2 separate regions of the Homo sapiens genome follow, and region 2 is linked to region 1. Evidence: fine-mapped expression QTL. A gene starts in region 1. The other region holds a variant in brackets. All regions are shown on one strand. Distances are between the middles of the regions.

Region 1 (8,000 bases):
GTTGGCGCCGTCAGGGACAGTGAGCCGGAGCTTTCTGCCCCCGAGGGCGGTGCGGGGAGCCGCTGGCGCAGGAGTTCCAGCATGCTGCTCTGCTCACTCCTCTTCAGCCCCTGAGGTTGAGAGAGAAACAGAACCGTCACGAAGTCTGGGCCAGAATGGCCCACGGGGGACAGCGCAGTATCTGGATATGGGGTCAGCAGAGGCTCTGGAGACAGCATAGTTACTCCAGGCTGAGGATGAACCGTTTCCTCAAGGGACTCACCATCCCCTGGGTAGTAGCGTGGGAGGAAAAGAGAGGGGAAGAAAAGGTAAAGGAAGGGAAAGAAGCGGCTGACAGAGGAGAAAGGACAGGTCAAGAAGGTGGGAAGGACAACATGCCTGTCCTCATCCCCCTGCCCCTGCCCCATCCTCCCTGTGCAGGTGGTCTCAGCGGGGCATGCAGGGCCTGTCAGAATCCTGAAGTGCACGTGCCCGGGGCCATCCTCCTCCAGAGGCTTCTCTGAATCCGGTTTGCTCTGTGGAGCCAGGCACATGCATTTTGAGAAAGCCCCCCCGGAACTTATATCCCAATTCCCGGTTAAGAACCGCTGAGTGTGAGGGGGATGAGCAGGTGTGGACCAAATGTCCCGGCACAAACCTTCATGTCCAGTATCTTCTGAAAGGTTTCTGTGTTGCAGTCTGTGAGAAGTTTGATGTAGTTGTCAACAAACACCACCAACGGTTCATGAGGGGCCATCACTACCTACAGCGGGAGGAGACAGGAGCAAGCCCCTCAGGAAAACTACCACCACGGGAGGAGACAGGAGCGGGCCCTCAAGAAAACTCACTACCCACCGCAGGAGGAGACGGGAGCGGGCCCTTCAGGAAAACTCACTCCTCACTTGCCCGCCGAGCGCTAAATGGATTCTGAGAGGTTTCCTTAAGCAGCAGCAACCCAGACTAGAAACGCCCCAGTGGCCCATCTCATCTTCACATGCCACTACAGCAATGTCCTAAATTTGCTGAATCCTAAATACACCTGCGCTGCTGTTTGAAGTATGGGTTTCCGGGGCCCTCCTCTAAAGACTCTAATTCAGTAGGCCTGGCTGGAGTCCCAGGTGACTTTTAAACTATCAGGACCATCCGGGAAACCCTGCGTGAGAGGGTCTCCTGTTCCAGGCATTTCACCAGTACACGGTACTTGCTCCTTCTGCCTTGACGTACTATGATTCCTGAGAAATGGGTGGCAAAAGGAGCTGGTATAAGTAAGTGGATTTCTGCAAAAACAAAAATGCCAAAGCTGCCTCACCTTTTGGAGACTTAAAATCTGTAACTTCATGTAACGACTAACTTAAACTATCAATTAACATACAAACAAAGGAAAGGAACGGCACTGCAACCCTTATTCATTTCCGTTTTGTTCTGGAATGCAGTATCTGATTTTCTTTCCCCAGCCGACTGATTTGTTTTGAATTCCTGAGACTGAAGGGAAGAGTGGCGAGGAGGAGTTCACTCAGGCATCCTCTGCCGATAATTCCCAGACCACAGGCTCTCCTCCCCAGCAGTAAGCAGCAGGGAAAGAACATGATGAGGCAGCTTCACCCTCACCTACATGAGCTCTTCACCCTCACCTACATGAGCTGCTTCACCCTCACCTACATGAGCTGCTTCACCCTCACCTACATGAGCTCTTCACCCTCACCTACATGAGCTCTTCACCCTTACCTACATGAGCTGCTTCATCCTCACCCACATCCCACCGGTGTCTGAGGCCCTGCTGCCACTTCCTACTCCTGCCGTCCCTGAGTCATCTGGTTTAGGAAGTGGCCTGAAGAGCCTACAGGTCCTGGGCTTTTAAGACCACATCACCACAGGACCATCTGTTCTCCAGCCCTCATCCCTACTCTTCAAAATAGCTGGAAACCAGAGGCAGATGCGCAGGGCTTCAGACGTTCCTCACTCGAAGTACAGTCTTGTTAAATGGGGCTTTAAAATATCCATTTGCTGATTAGATTCAGTTACTACAACATCTGTTCAGAGTTCATTTAAAGTGGCAGAGTACAGAAAGCCAAAAAGGCTGATGTGGAAGGGAGTAACTGAGAGCTGTGCCTGAAATTCCTGCTGAGAAGCGGAGATCCCTGACATACACTGATTCACAGTGGCAACCACCTAACCTCCAAGCTTGACCACATTTGATCACAAGAGAATCCCACGCCAACAAGAAATTCATTTGTCAGAAGGAATTACTGAGCCCTAATAACTATCCACAGACTTTCAACAATATCTGATGAGGCCAAAATCCAGTCCAGCCCAAGAATGTGGACCATGCTTTGAGGCCGGTGAGGATAGGACCTACCCTGTGCTTTCAAAACCAAGGCTTCTCAGAAAAAGAGATTAAATAAATAACTGGCCCCTTTTAACACAAGCCATCACCTTGAGGATCATCTCAGCCCGGGTCATGCCTTTGACAACGATCTTGGTGTAGCTGGCGGGTGCCTTCCTCACCACCTGCGAGCTGATGGAGGGGAGATCGAGCAGGACCATCTTCAGCGAGTGGGTGTCCAGCAGCAGCTGTGGAGCAAAGCAGAGAGCATTACCGGCCCCTTCCAGCGACCCAGTGCCGAGTGGACTCATGCCGATGAGTCATGTTTTTCTCGTTATACACGTAACACATTCTTGTTGCAAAAAATTGGGGAAATAAACAGAAATATAAAAGAAAAAAATTATGTATAATTCCCATCACCTAGGAGAAACAACATCAAGGAGCCAGCCTATGTGTACGTATATAAAAAACTAAATCAGGGGGCCAGGAGCCGTGGCTCACACCTGTAATCCCAGCACTTCAGGAGGGCCAGGCAGCAGGATCGCTTGAGCTCAGGAATTTGAGACCAGCCTGGGCAACATGGCAAAACCCCGCCTCTACAAAAAATGCAAAAATTAGCCAGGCGTGGGGGTGCGCATCTGTGGTCCCAGCTACTGAGGAAGACTGAGGTGGGTGGATCGCTTAAGCCTGGGAGGTTGAGGCTGCAGTGACTCAAGATTGTGCCACTGTAACTCTCCAGCCTGGGTGACAGAGGGAGACCCTGCCTCAGTAACAAACCACAACTCCTCCATAAAACTAAATCAGAATCATACTGTATGTATATTCAATTTTATAACCTGGTTTTCTCACTTAATATACACAATTTTTATATTCTATTTTCCCATCTTTGCAGTCTTTAAAAAACAAATCAAGGTTTTTAAGTGCACTCTAGCCTGGGCCTCATGGCGAGACCCCATCTCTAAAGAAGAATCGTGATTTAATGGCTGTGCAGTACTCTGTGATGTGTGTGGTTGTGTAAACTTTAAGATCTTTCCAATGGAATGGACCCATTTACACCTCTGCCAGCCATGCAGACTGCACCCTTATCAGCACTGAAAACTCATCAAATCCTGATTATTCATTAGGCAAAAAATAGTAACTCATTATTGTTTTACTTTGAATTTCTCTGGATGTTACTGAGGATGTAGGAGATTTACCCAAATGTAAACATTGTATCCTGGCAACAATCTACCTTTTCCTCTTTGTTTGTTCTGGTTCTCTGGGATGCCAATTATCTAGAAGGACACCCATAGTCCTAAAGGCTCACTGACTGCCGGGAATGACATGAGGAACGTTTTGTCACATTTAATCTGAGTAAAGCCTTACCTACCCTGGATGTTATTTATTGTTCCCATTTTACAGATGAGAAAAAGTTCCAGAGGATTAACAGCTCACCAAACTCATCTCATGCAACGGACGGGGTTAGACAAAAGTTGGACGGGAAGCTGGAATTCATTTCCGGTTGCCAGGTAACGGGGTTAGAGAAAAGGTGGACTGGAAGCTGGAATTCCATTTCCGGTTGCCCAGGTAACGGGGTTAGACAAAAGGTGGAAGGGAAGCTGGAATTCCATTTCCGGTTGCCCAGGTAAATGTCCCTGGGTGGTTTTGGTGACGAGCTCACACTGACTCCTGCTGACTGCCCTGCTCTGCTGCCGCCGCTGCTCTTGGCAACCAGGGAGCAGAGAAATGGCTGAAGACAGAAGGGTGTACTCTGGCCTGTTGAGATGGCTTAGGAGAATGGAACCACATGGTCACCAAGCAGACAACGGCAGCAGTGGGGTGACAGCTCCCAATGCCACCACTCAACTCCGGTGATAACGGCCAAACTTATATTCAGGGCAAGGCCTGTACTCTCTGCCACTGCCTGCTTCTTTGGGAAAGCCTTCTGTAATCCTATCAGGTAGGTGAGAAATGGGACCCTTCAGGCCCTGCGACACTTTGCATCCTCCAATTTCCTATTTACTTTGCTTTGGACAGAAGAATTAATGATTAAAGAGAAACTAAGTAACGACAGATACTATGAACTTAAGGGTTATGGCAATTGTAATTTTAACAATGGTAGAAACATGGGGAAGACGTCAGTGTTTTATGTGGAATAATTTAGGTGTGGTAAGGAATTACACTAAGGTCAGAGCAATTTCATGCAGCTAGTCAAAGGCCTGCACCACGCAGGTCATTCAACTGTAGCCAGCAAAGTGCAGGGCATTTTGGACCTTTCTGGATTTCTAGAGATAGAAATTCTTACTATCCTAGTGTCTGCTTTGTTGAAAAGGCCAAGGGCTCAGAGAAAAGGGTATGCAAACCTCCAGGAGGGGGAATGGCACTGATTGCTCAAGGCCCACGTGAAGAGCCTGGCGTTAGCGCACTTTCCAGAATTCCAGTGGAAATGACTGCTGCTTTTCCTCGGAGGAACCCAGAACAAGCCTCTAAAGCATTCTAGGTGGATTAAATTCTTAGATATAAAAAAGAAAAACTTTAAGAAGAAAATACAGGGCGCAGTGGCTCATGCCTGTAATCCCAGCATTTTGGGAGGCCGAGGCGGGTGGATCATCTGAGGTCAGGAGTTCGAGACCAGCCTGGCCAACATGGAGAAACCCCATCTCTACTAAAAATACAAAAATTAGCCGGGTGTGGTGGCGCATGCCTGTAATCCCAGCTACTCGGGAGGCTGAGGCAGGAGAATTGCTTGAACCTGGGAGGTTTGCGCTACAGCCTGGGTGACAGAACAAGACACTGTCTCAAAAAAATAAATACATAAAAAATAAAAAATAAAAAAGAAGAAGAAGAAGAAAATACAGAGATTATTTTCATTGCTTATGGGTGGAGAAGAATGTCAAACATCAGAAAGAATGAACCACCTACCCTAAAATGAAAGGCATCTATATCAGAAGAAACAAACAAAGTAAAAGACAAGACATAAATCAGGAGAAGATACGTGCAACGTTGACAAGGGAACGGGGTTCCGAACATGAAGATTCCTACACATCAACAGGAAAAGCACAAACTATCCCAACAGCGACACAACAACAGGCAAACAATACTAACACCGGATTCACAAAAGAGGAAACTCAAATGCCCGAAAGGCATATGAAATGACACGCAACCTGGTTAGTAACTGGGAAATGCAAATTAAAACCACAGATGTACACCATAATACATCCATCAGAGTCAGAAGTAAACAGATTATTTGATAATCAAGTGTGGGCACGGCCATGGCACTGAAATTCACAAATGTACACCGTAATACACCCATCAGAGTCAGAAGTAAACAGGTTGATAATCTAGTGTGGGCACGGCCACACTGAAATTCAGACTAGTGGTGACAGTAGAAGTTAGTTCAAGCACGTTGGGGGAAATTTAGCAACATTTCCTTAGCTGGAGATGTGTATCACCCATAACACAGCATTAATACTTATATCCATTAGAGGAATTCTTGCCCATGTAAAAACGTTCCCTGCATCCGCTATTTATAAAAGCAAAAGTTTGGAAACAACCTACACGTCCATTGACAGTGGAATGAATAAACAAATGACAGCACATTCGTGCAATGGAATATGCTGCTGAGGTGAAAATGAATGGGTGCACACAGCATGCATTAACATGCATAAATCTCAGAAAATAGTAAGTTGGGCAAAAAAAAGCAAGTGGGGAAATGATATGTCTAATGCCATTTATATAGTTTTAAAATATGCAAAACAAAATCATATATCATTTGTGAATATATACACATATATCAAAACACATATGAGAATAAAATCAAAATCAGGACAGTGTTTACTTTGGGGCATGGAGGAAGAGATGGGCAGGGTGGGGTTCATGGGGGCGGTCTTCAGCAATAACTGTAATGATTTACTTTACATAAAAATGATCTAAAGCAGGCAGGGTGTGGCAGCTCATGCCTGTAATCCCAGCATTTTGGGAGGCTGAGGCAGAAGGATCACTTGAGGCTACGAATTCAAGATTACCCTGGGCAACACAGTGAGACCTTGTCTCTACAAAAACAAAAATAATAAGATTAGACAGGCACAGTGGCACACACTTGTAGTCTCAGCTACTTAGGAGGCTGAGGTGGGAAGATGGCTTAAGCCCAGGAATTCCAGGTTGCAGTGAGCTATGATGGCACCATTGCACCCCAGCCTGGGAGACAGAGTGGGACCCTGTCTCTTAAGAAAAGAAAAAAAAAATGGGCCAGGCGCGGTGTCTCATGCCTGCAATCCCAGAACTTTGGGAGGCTGAGGTGGGAGGATCACTTAAGGTCAGGAATTTGAGACCAGCCTGGCCAACATGGTGAGACCCCATCTCTACTAAAATACAAAAATTAGCCAGATATGGTGGTGCACACCTGTAATCCCAGCTACTCGGGAGGCTGAGGCAGGAGAATTGCTTGAACTCGGGAGGTGAAGGTTGCAGTGAGCCGAGATCGCGCCATTGTACTCCAGACTGGGCAACACGGTGAGACATTTTCTCAAAAAAAAAAAAAAAAAAAAAAAAGATGTAAAGTAAATGTGGAAACATGTTACATATTTTGCTGAGCTGAGTAGTTAGTTACTGTTTTTTACATTATTTTCTGTACATTAATTAACTGGAATTTTTGTTTAAAGACTACCATTCAGGACTCAACTCTGTCTTCCATGTAGCAAATTTTGAGAGCCTTGTCAAAATCAAAGCCATGTCTTAGCATTCATTTGTTGGTAGGAAAAAAAAAATCAGTCATTATATTTTAAAGCATATGGAGATATTTCCTACTTTTCTACTTCCCAGAGATACATTATATGCATAAATAATTGTACAGTCTTAAATGACAGGAAGGGTTTGAATGCACCAGGCATAATTCTCTAGTGTCCCTCATATACAGGGAGATATGACACTTTCATTCCCTGGCCAGTCACCATAAAATTCTGTCTTTACCAGACACTGAGAGGTGAAAACCCTGGTCTCAGGTTTTATACATAAAGCAAGGCAGTCAGAAAAGGCGGGAATGAGCCTGACAGATTTGGCGGCTGTCTGTGCAAAGACAAGACAGAAAGGTCCCATTTATCATGAAAATCTGCTAGTTTTCAACTTTGAAATAGTTGATAATTCATCTTCTTAGGCATGAGACATTGGGCAAGGGGTGGCTATTGCCACATTCATTTCTGCCTCAGCGATAATTTCTGGGGCAGTGTGGGCTGGCTAATGTTGTTGATGGGATGTGGGGGTGCAAGGGTGGCCAGTATGCCATGCCTGTGAAGGCTGATCACCCAGCAATGGAAATCTTTGAGAGGGGCCCTTTACTTCCCGAGGAGCCTCCTACAATTCTTGGGGACATGATGACTATCAACAGTGATGAAAATTTTGCGTAAATAAGATACAGGCCCACACTCCTAGAAGACAAAGAACCATGTGAACAAAACCACATAGGTGAACCATATTGGTCCCACCATAGAAAATTCTTCAATGAGGTGGCACAGGGGAGACAGCTCAGGCTATCAGGAGGGATGGAACAAGGTGGACACATGTTCTATTTCTTTTTCTTTTTAAAAAAATTAGGTATAACTTTCACAGAGTACACAAACACCACGTATGCCATTTGATCAACATCCAGACATGTGCACATCCTGCTGCCTAACGGAAGACAGAGCACACTTCTGGCATCCCTGAAGCCTTCCTCATGCTCTCG
Region 2 (8,000 bases), 24 kb after region 1:
CAGTTTCTGTTTTTTCCTAAAACTACCATTAATAGGCAAAACACTAGGTGTGTTTGCTTCTGAACAGAGACTTGGATTTATTTACCTGAGTGATGTGAGCAGCCCTAGGAAAAGGCACGGAGAGAGGCGGGGACCATGAGACCAACAGCCCCTGCTAGGGAGCCCACGGCTCTCTATCCTACGTACAGGGGCATAACCAGACATACTCATTTCTAAGGATTTGTAGGATTTAAATCTAAAAGATAGAATCCTTTGTATTTCCACCAAAACACTCCAAATAACTACTTTTTCCAGAATCAGGAGAACTAGTTTTACTTCTAGCTTCACTATTATAAGTTATATGGCTTTGGGCATAATATGAAGAAGAGAAGGAAGGAAGGAAGGAAGGAAGGAAGGAAGGGAGGGAGGGAGGGAGGGAGGGAGGGAGGGAGGGAAGGAGGGAAGGAGGGAGGGAAGGAGGGGAGTTTGGAGGGAGGGAAGGGAGTCTGGAGGGAGGGGAGGGGACAGGGGAAGGGAGGGAGAGAGGAAAGAAGGAAGGAAGGGAGAGTGGGAGGAAGGGAGGAACGGAGAGAGGGAGGAAGGGAGGGAGGGAGGGAGTGAGGAAGGCAGGGAGGGAGGGAGGGAGGAAGGGAGGAAGGAAGGAAAGAAGATACCAGAAGGAAAGTTCATTAGTTTTCAGGGAAAAATATTCAACGCAGATTGGAATATGTGGGTTGGCTGTTCAACACATCTTCTCCACTGTAGAAAAGTCCTGGTGTCAGATCAAGAAAAGCTGGAGATGAATATACACCATGATGATGGTGAATGCTTGAAGAACTCATAATCATATCAGCATGAACACTCGTGTGGACCCACCAGGACTGGGCACATGCTGACAGAAATGTATCAACTAATTGAAATTATGGTGATTTAAATTTTATTCCTTTTTTCAAAAACATCTGGTCGGGCACGATGGCAACATGCTTGCAATCCCAGCAGTTTAGGAGGCCGAGGCTCTTCCACTTTTAGGCAGGTTACTTAAGCTGATTTTGCCTCAGTTGCCACATTTGCCAAAAAGACTTACTCACTCTCTCTGTATGGCATGCCACAATCCTGCATAAAGAGGCACTGTGGTGGCGTGATCACAGCTCACTGCAACCTCTGCCTCTCAGGCTCAAGTGACCTTCCCACCTTAGCCTCCCAAGTAGCTAAAAGATCTGGAGCAGGTGATTTAATGTCTCTGTTTCAGCTTCTTTATCTGTGAAAAGGGGAAATAGCATAGCCATCTGATGAATTTATTGTTAGAATGAAATTAATTGGGTTCCAATTCCTGGTAAGTGCTCAGTAAATAGTAACTTATTATCAACTCATACAGGTTATCTAAGAAAATAAGCAATATGGAGGCCAGGCACAGTGGCTCACACCTGTAATTCCAGCATTTTGGGAGGCCGAGGTGGGAGGATCACTAGAGCTCAGGAGTTTGAGACTGGCCTGGGCAACATAGCAAGACCTCATCTCTACTAAAAATCAAGAAAATTAGCCAGGTGTGGTGGTGTGCGCCAGTAGTACCAGCTATTTGGGAGGCTAGGGTGAGAGGATCACTGGAACCCAGGAGGTCAAGGCTGCAGTAAGCTATGATTATGCCACCGCACCCAAGCCTGGGCAACAGAGTGAAGAAATTTTTTTATGAAAGAAAGAAAATAACACTATGGGAAGGAAACGTGGTCTAGAAGTTAATTTTGCTGTAACTCATCAGCAACACTACTGGAATCTCAAAGTCAGAGTTTCAGAGGGACCACCTGACTTTCATCACATTTTCCTCCCCCTTCTTCGGCCTGGCCTGCAGAAGGCTGCACCTGCATGTGAATCTAGCAAACTACCGCTCTGCATTTCCCTCTCCTTGTCTAGCAGCAGGACTCAGGGCCACACCCCCGCGGGCTCGTATTCCTTCATTCCCACATCTCTTCAATCGGCTCCAGGATGCCACCTGCTGAAGTCAGAAGCCCTTCTGCTATCAGGTGCCATTGAGGAGCATCACTCCATCCTCAACAGCACCAGCTATGGACCTAAAGGTTTCAGGGATTCTATGACCCCACCGTCTCTCACAAAGTTGTCCAAGTTTCCTACTCTACATCTACCAGCTCCACCTGGCTACCTCTGCTCAGTAGAGTTATCTATGTCTCACTTGTTTACCAATCTTTGGTCAAAAGTGTGTTTGTGGTCCTTTGGTTCTTTCTCTCCCACTCCCTGGCTCCCTCTTTACCTTCAAAGTCATTCAGGGAATACTACAGTTAAGCAAGTACTGTGCCATGCCACGGGTTTCCAAAATGAATAAGACACAGCCCTCAAGTTGTTCAAAGTTTAATAGGGAAGACAAAGACATAAAAATGATTACATAACAAAGCAGAAAGGTAGTCTAGGTACTATGGTGTCTTGAAAGAGAAATAAATATGCTCTGGCTGAGGCAAGAAATGCTGACATTGTAAGGGACCTAGAAGAGCCAAAACAGTGTTGAAAAAGAACAAAGTTGGAAGACTCATACTTCTTGATTTCAAAGATTACTACAAAGCTATTATAGCCAAACAGTGTGGTACTGGCCTGAGGGTGGACATACAGATAGATGGAATAGAACTGAGAGTCCAGAAATAATCCCACACATCTATGGTTAACTGATTTTTTACGAGGGTATCAAGATCATCCAATGTGAAAAGAATAGTCGTTTCAACAAATAGTGCTGGGAAAGCTGAGTATCCTTTCAGCAAAAGAATGCTGCTGAATCTTTGCCTCACACCATATGCAAAAATTAACTCGAAATGGATTGAAGACCTACATTTTTTTCCTTTTTTTCTTTTTTGTGAAGACCTAAATTTCTTAGAAGAAACCACAGAGTAAATCTTTATGATTCTGGATCAGGCAATGGTATCTTAGATATCTCACACACACACACACACACACACACACACACACACACACACACACACGATATACCAACTTCAGAAAATCAAGGACATTATCAAGAAAGTGAAAAGGCAACCCACCCACAGAATGGGAGAGAATATTTACAAATTTCATATCTGATAAGGGGTCTAGTATCCAGATATAAAAAGAACTTTTACAATTCAACAACAGAAAGACAACCCAATTTTAAAATGGGCAAAACATTTAATTCTCATTTCTTCAAAGAGAATATACAAATCGCCAGTAGCATCTGAGAAGGTGATCAACATATTAGTCATGCAAGGAATGCAAACTGTAATCACAATGAGATACCACTTCACACCCACGAAAATGGCTATAATTAAAAAAGGAAAACAAGTGTGGGAGAAGATGTGGAGAAACTGGATTCCTTACACTTTGCTGTGGAAAGGTACAACGGCACAGTCACTTCAGAAAACAGTGTGGCACTTTCTCAAAATGTTAAACATAAATTGACCATACGGCTCTTTCAGTTCCATTCCTTAGGTCCCTTAGATCCTTTTTTTTTTTTTTTTTTTTTTGAGACAGAGTCTCCCTCTGTCACCCAGGCTGGAGTGCAGTGGTGCAATCTTGGCTCACTGCAATCTCCACCTCCCAGGTTCAAGCCATTCTCCTGTCTCAGCCTCCCAAGTAGCTGGGATTACAGGCACGCACGCTACCACACCCGGCTAATTTTTGTATTTTTATTAGAGACAGGGTTTCGCCATGTTGGCCAGGCTGGTCTTGAACTCCTGACCTCAGGTGATCTGCCCACCTCGGCCTCCCAACGTGCTGGGATTACGGGCATGAGCCACCACGCCTGGCCTTTAGGTACATATTGAAGAGAACTGAAAACATGTTCACACGAAAAATTGTACATGAATGTTCACAGCATTATTCAAAATTAGAAAGTAGAAATAACTCAAACGTCCAATAGACGAATGAATAAACAAAATGTGGTCTATCCATATGATGGAATGTTACTCAGCCACAAAAAGGAATGGAGTGCTGACACATGCCCCACCATGCACATGCCCTGAAAACACTACGCTAAGTGAAGAAAGCCAAGCACAAGATGTCCCACATGCCATATGATTCTAGGTATGCAAAATGTCAGGAGGGGCAAATCTATAGAGACAGAAAGTAGGCTAATGGTTGTCAGGGGAATGTAGAATGACTGCTGAGAGGTACGGGGTTTCTTTTTGGGGTAATGAAGATGTTCTGGAATTAGATGGTGGTGGTGGTTTCATGACATTGTGGATATACTAAAAACAACTAAATTGTACACTTTATTTATTTATTTATAAAATAGAGTCTCACTCTGTCACCCAGGCTGGAGTGCAGTGCTGCAATCTTGGCTCACTACAACCTCGGCCTCCCAGGTTCAAGAGATTCTCCTACCTCAGCCTCCTGAGTAGCTGGGACTATAGGTGTGTGCCATCATGTCCAGCAAATTTTTTGTGTTTTTAATAGAGACAGGGTCCCACCATGCTGGCCTCGAACTCCTAACCTCAGATGATTTGCACTCCTCAGCCTCCCAAAGGAGTGAGCCACTGCTCCTGGCCAACTGTATACTTTAAAAGGGTGAATTCTGTGGTATATGAATTATACCTCAGGTTTTTAAATGGGGACAGACATTTGAACTTGATCTTAAAGGACGTGCTCCTTGGGCAGACGATAGCAGGAAGAAAATTCTGGGCAGAAAGAATAAAATGAGAAAAGGCATGGAAGCCGCAAAAGAGCAATATGCATTCAGGGAAGTAAACATGGCTGCGACTGGAGAACAGGGCACATACTC[C/T]GGAGTGAGCGGCAGAAACTGACCTAGCAGTGGAGTAAAGAGATAGATAATGAAAGCTCTATATGCCAACCAAGGAAGAGGCCATGGGATGCCTTCCATGAGAATGAGGTCTCCCAGGAAAATGACTTAACCAAGTTGCCAGGCTCAATCCCTCTTGTCAAGGAAGTCTCCTTCCGTCAACTCAGAATCATCCAATGACTACACTCCACTTTGGCCAGCCAACAGTCCTTCTGGAATCATCCAATGACTACACTCCACTTTGGCCAGCCAACAGTCCTTCTGGAAATATCCAACGACTACACTCCACTTTGGCCAGCCAACAGTCCTTCTGGAATCATCCAACAACTACACTCCACTTTGGCCAGCCAACAGTCCTTCTGGAATCATCCAACGACTACACTCCACTTTGGCCAGCCAACAGTCCTTCTGGAAATATCCAACGACTACACTCCACTTTGGCCAGCCAACAGTCCTTCTGACATTTATAAGATACACTTATTTACAGTATTGGTTGTTCTCAGTTTTCTTCCCAGCAGGGTATAGACTCCTTGAGGACAGTCTCGTTTCCAATCTTAACTCTGTCAGTCCAAGTACAGGAGTAGCCTGAGGAGCCCCTGGGATGTTGAATGAGATTGGCAGTTTGAACCAAGCTCTTTAGCTTCCCTAACCTCTCTTTACTCATGTTTTCACCCTGTTTGAACTGCCCTACTAATCACAAACTCATTCAGAATTTCGCCCTCATCTGTTTCAAACACCACTTCCTTACGAGGGCCTTCTTTGCCTCCCCACCTGGATATGAACTCCTCCCTCTTTAAAAAGGGTGTATTTTGTACTTTTCTTATGGCACTGATTTCCTCATCTCTTATATTAAAGTTACTGGGTATTGCTGTCATCTTACACATCTCTTGCCCTCAGCTACTGGAATCTAAACACCTTAGCCAAGGGTTTATGCCTTTCTGAGCCTTGCAGCTCCCAGCACTGTGCTGGGCAGGGTCTGAACTGAACTGTTTAACCAGCAGCAAAAATGATAGAATCAGAGACAGAAATAACCATTATCACAAAAGTTTTTTTAAATCCTAGAAGAAACTACACAAAACAGGATGCAGGCATCAAGAACACAGAATGTGTGTTGAATCAATTTGTGACCACTTGGCTTGTTTATTTCCATCACATGGATTTTATTTTGCTAGAACTCCAGAAGACTCAGACAAAAAGTAATGGCCTCCCAGCTGCTGCGTTCCCAAGTCTGTGGTTTTCCTATGATATAAACAAAGGACTCTGGAGGCACGGTCTCTGTTCGTATTTGCTGGTGTGGGCACGGGGCAGAAGTGGAGGGTGGGACGGGGCAGGGTTTGAGGGAAATCCACCGAACGAACCGACAGTTCGTATAAGCAACACTTGCAGTGTTAAACCCCTTCCAACCGTGATTTTATTGAAAAAAAAAAATCCCACTCTTCCTTTGGTGAATGTGAAAATTCTTTCGGCAGCTGCATTCCGATCTGAAGTGTGTGGCAGTTCAGGAGAGATGGCAGCTGGCACAGATCCCACTCAGGATGTAGAGAATGCTTACCAGCAGCGAGGGGATCATGAGAGCTGGCAAAACGAATCCTCTAAGCAGATGGACTGGCCTCACTTTGCCTGCTCAGAGTGTTCTCCTGTGAATGCTGAGAATACTGGAAGTACCCATCAGCACCGGACTGCTGAAAAGATCAGCTTTTTGAATAAAACTGTGACATCAGCTATTTTAGGACTTGCCACTTCAGTTCATAAAACCCTAAAGCCTACATTTTGGTTTTAATCTTATTTTTGTTAAATATTTACAATCTACTGCAAAACCAAATTCAGACCAAATGTCTGCTTACACAACCTTGTGACATGGTCATTCCTCCTGACAAGAGGGAGAGGGAACTAACATTTAATGAGCATTTACTATGTGCCTGGCACTAGACCCGCCCGTTCCATGTTTCATCCTCACAGCAATGCTGGGAGGCAGAGATCCACAGTTCACTTGGGGTATGTGGGCCCAGATGATGTCACGTTGGCCCAGACAGGTGAATCATTTGCTCAACACCCCAAAGGAAACCCTGGAGGAGTTAGGTCTGTCTGACTCTAAAGTTAGTGTTCCTCCCACTGCCCTCTGGTACTGGCCAGTATAACCTAGATAAATTGTTTCTCCAGAATTTGCTACAAGAGCCTATGACTCTAGAGCAGACATTGGCAAACTTTTTCTGTAAAGGGCCAGACAGTAAATATTTAATTTTTTTAGCTTTGTGGGCTAGTCTCTGTTGCAATGGCTCAATTCTACCACTATATTGCAAAAAGGCAGCCATAGATAATACATAAATAAAGGAACATGGCTGTATTCCAATAAAACTTTATTTTCAAATACAAGCAGTGGGCCAGATCTGGTTCCCAGGCTCTAGTTTGCCAACCCCTGCTCTACAAAGTTCTAGAGTTGCAGCTGCATGTTACTTGGGTTTAGCATAACAAAGGCCCATTTCCAACTTAATTAACAAAAATGAATCTCCCATATTCAAGACTACAAGAGAGATAAAAGAGGGGGTGAAAGACATGGTCTGTGCACTTACGGAATTGACATTCATTTGGGAAAAAAAGGCATAGGCACATAAAAGTCAAAAATAGGAAGATGAGGTAGCGCTCAGTAAGTGCCAAAGGAGGAGACTTGAGGGCCAAGGGCTGACTGATGGGCCACCACGATATTAGAAAACCAGAGTTCACAACCTGATCAAATACTCTTACATTGGCACCAGAGCTCAGAAGGAGTTGGAAAAACCTCTCAGTGGGCAAGAATGAAGAATGAGTCAGAAGTTACTACTTTAAGCACTAATGAAAACACCCATTCTGGTGAGACCACACCAAGGTTTTTAGCATGTGTCAGATACTAATCAAAGATAATACGTAAATAAAGGACATGGCTGATTGGTTTTTAATTAACAAAAATGAATCTCCCATATTCAAGACTACATGAGAGATAAAAGAGGGGTGAAAGACATGGTCTGTGCACTTACGGAATTGACATTCATTTGGGAAAAAAAGGCATAGGCACATAAAAGCCAAAAATAGGAACATGAGAGGAACATGAGGTAGCGCTCAGTAATTAAAAATGATCCATCTCAGCTGGGCACTGTGGCTCATGCCTGTAATCCCAGCACTTGGGGAGGACTCGGTGGGAAGACTGCTTGACGCCAGGAGTTCAGGACCAGCCTGGGCAACATAGCAAGACTCTTAGCTCTACAAAAAATTTAAA

Evidence for each region. PIP is the estimated chance that this variant, and not a neighbour inherited with it, causes the effect.
Region 2: its variant is the best candidate, but not a certain one, in a credible set for the expression of VPS53-AS1 in whole blood (INTERVAL, PIP 0.56).

The regions. Positions count from the first base shown.
Region 1 is chr17:519,189-527,188 of GRCh38, forward strand. It overlaps VPS53-AS1 (VPS53 antisense RNA 1), which reads left to right and starts at 3,549. Exons shown (of 3, transcript XR_007065570.1): 1 at 3,549-4,241. VPS53 (VPS53 subunit of GARP complex) reads right to left here. Exons shown (of 22, transcript NM_001128159.3): 20 at 2,413-2,550; 21 at 638-742; 22 at 1-110. RefSeq lists an enhancer at 1,293-1,794.
Region 2 is chr17:543,417-551,416 of GRCh38, forward strand. All of the region lies in intron 17 of VPS53 (VPS53 subunit of GARP complex), which reads right to left. VPS53-AS1 (VPS53 antisense RNA 1) reads left to right here. Exons shown (of 3, transcript XR_007065570.1): 3 at 6,220-7,937. Among named protein-coding and RNA genes, the nearest start is that of VPS53-AS1, 25 kb to the left of the region's middle. The variant C/T (reference allele first, on the strand shown) is at 4,733.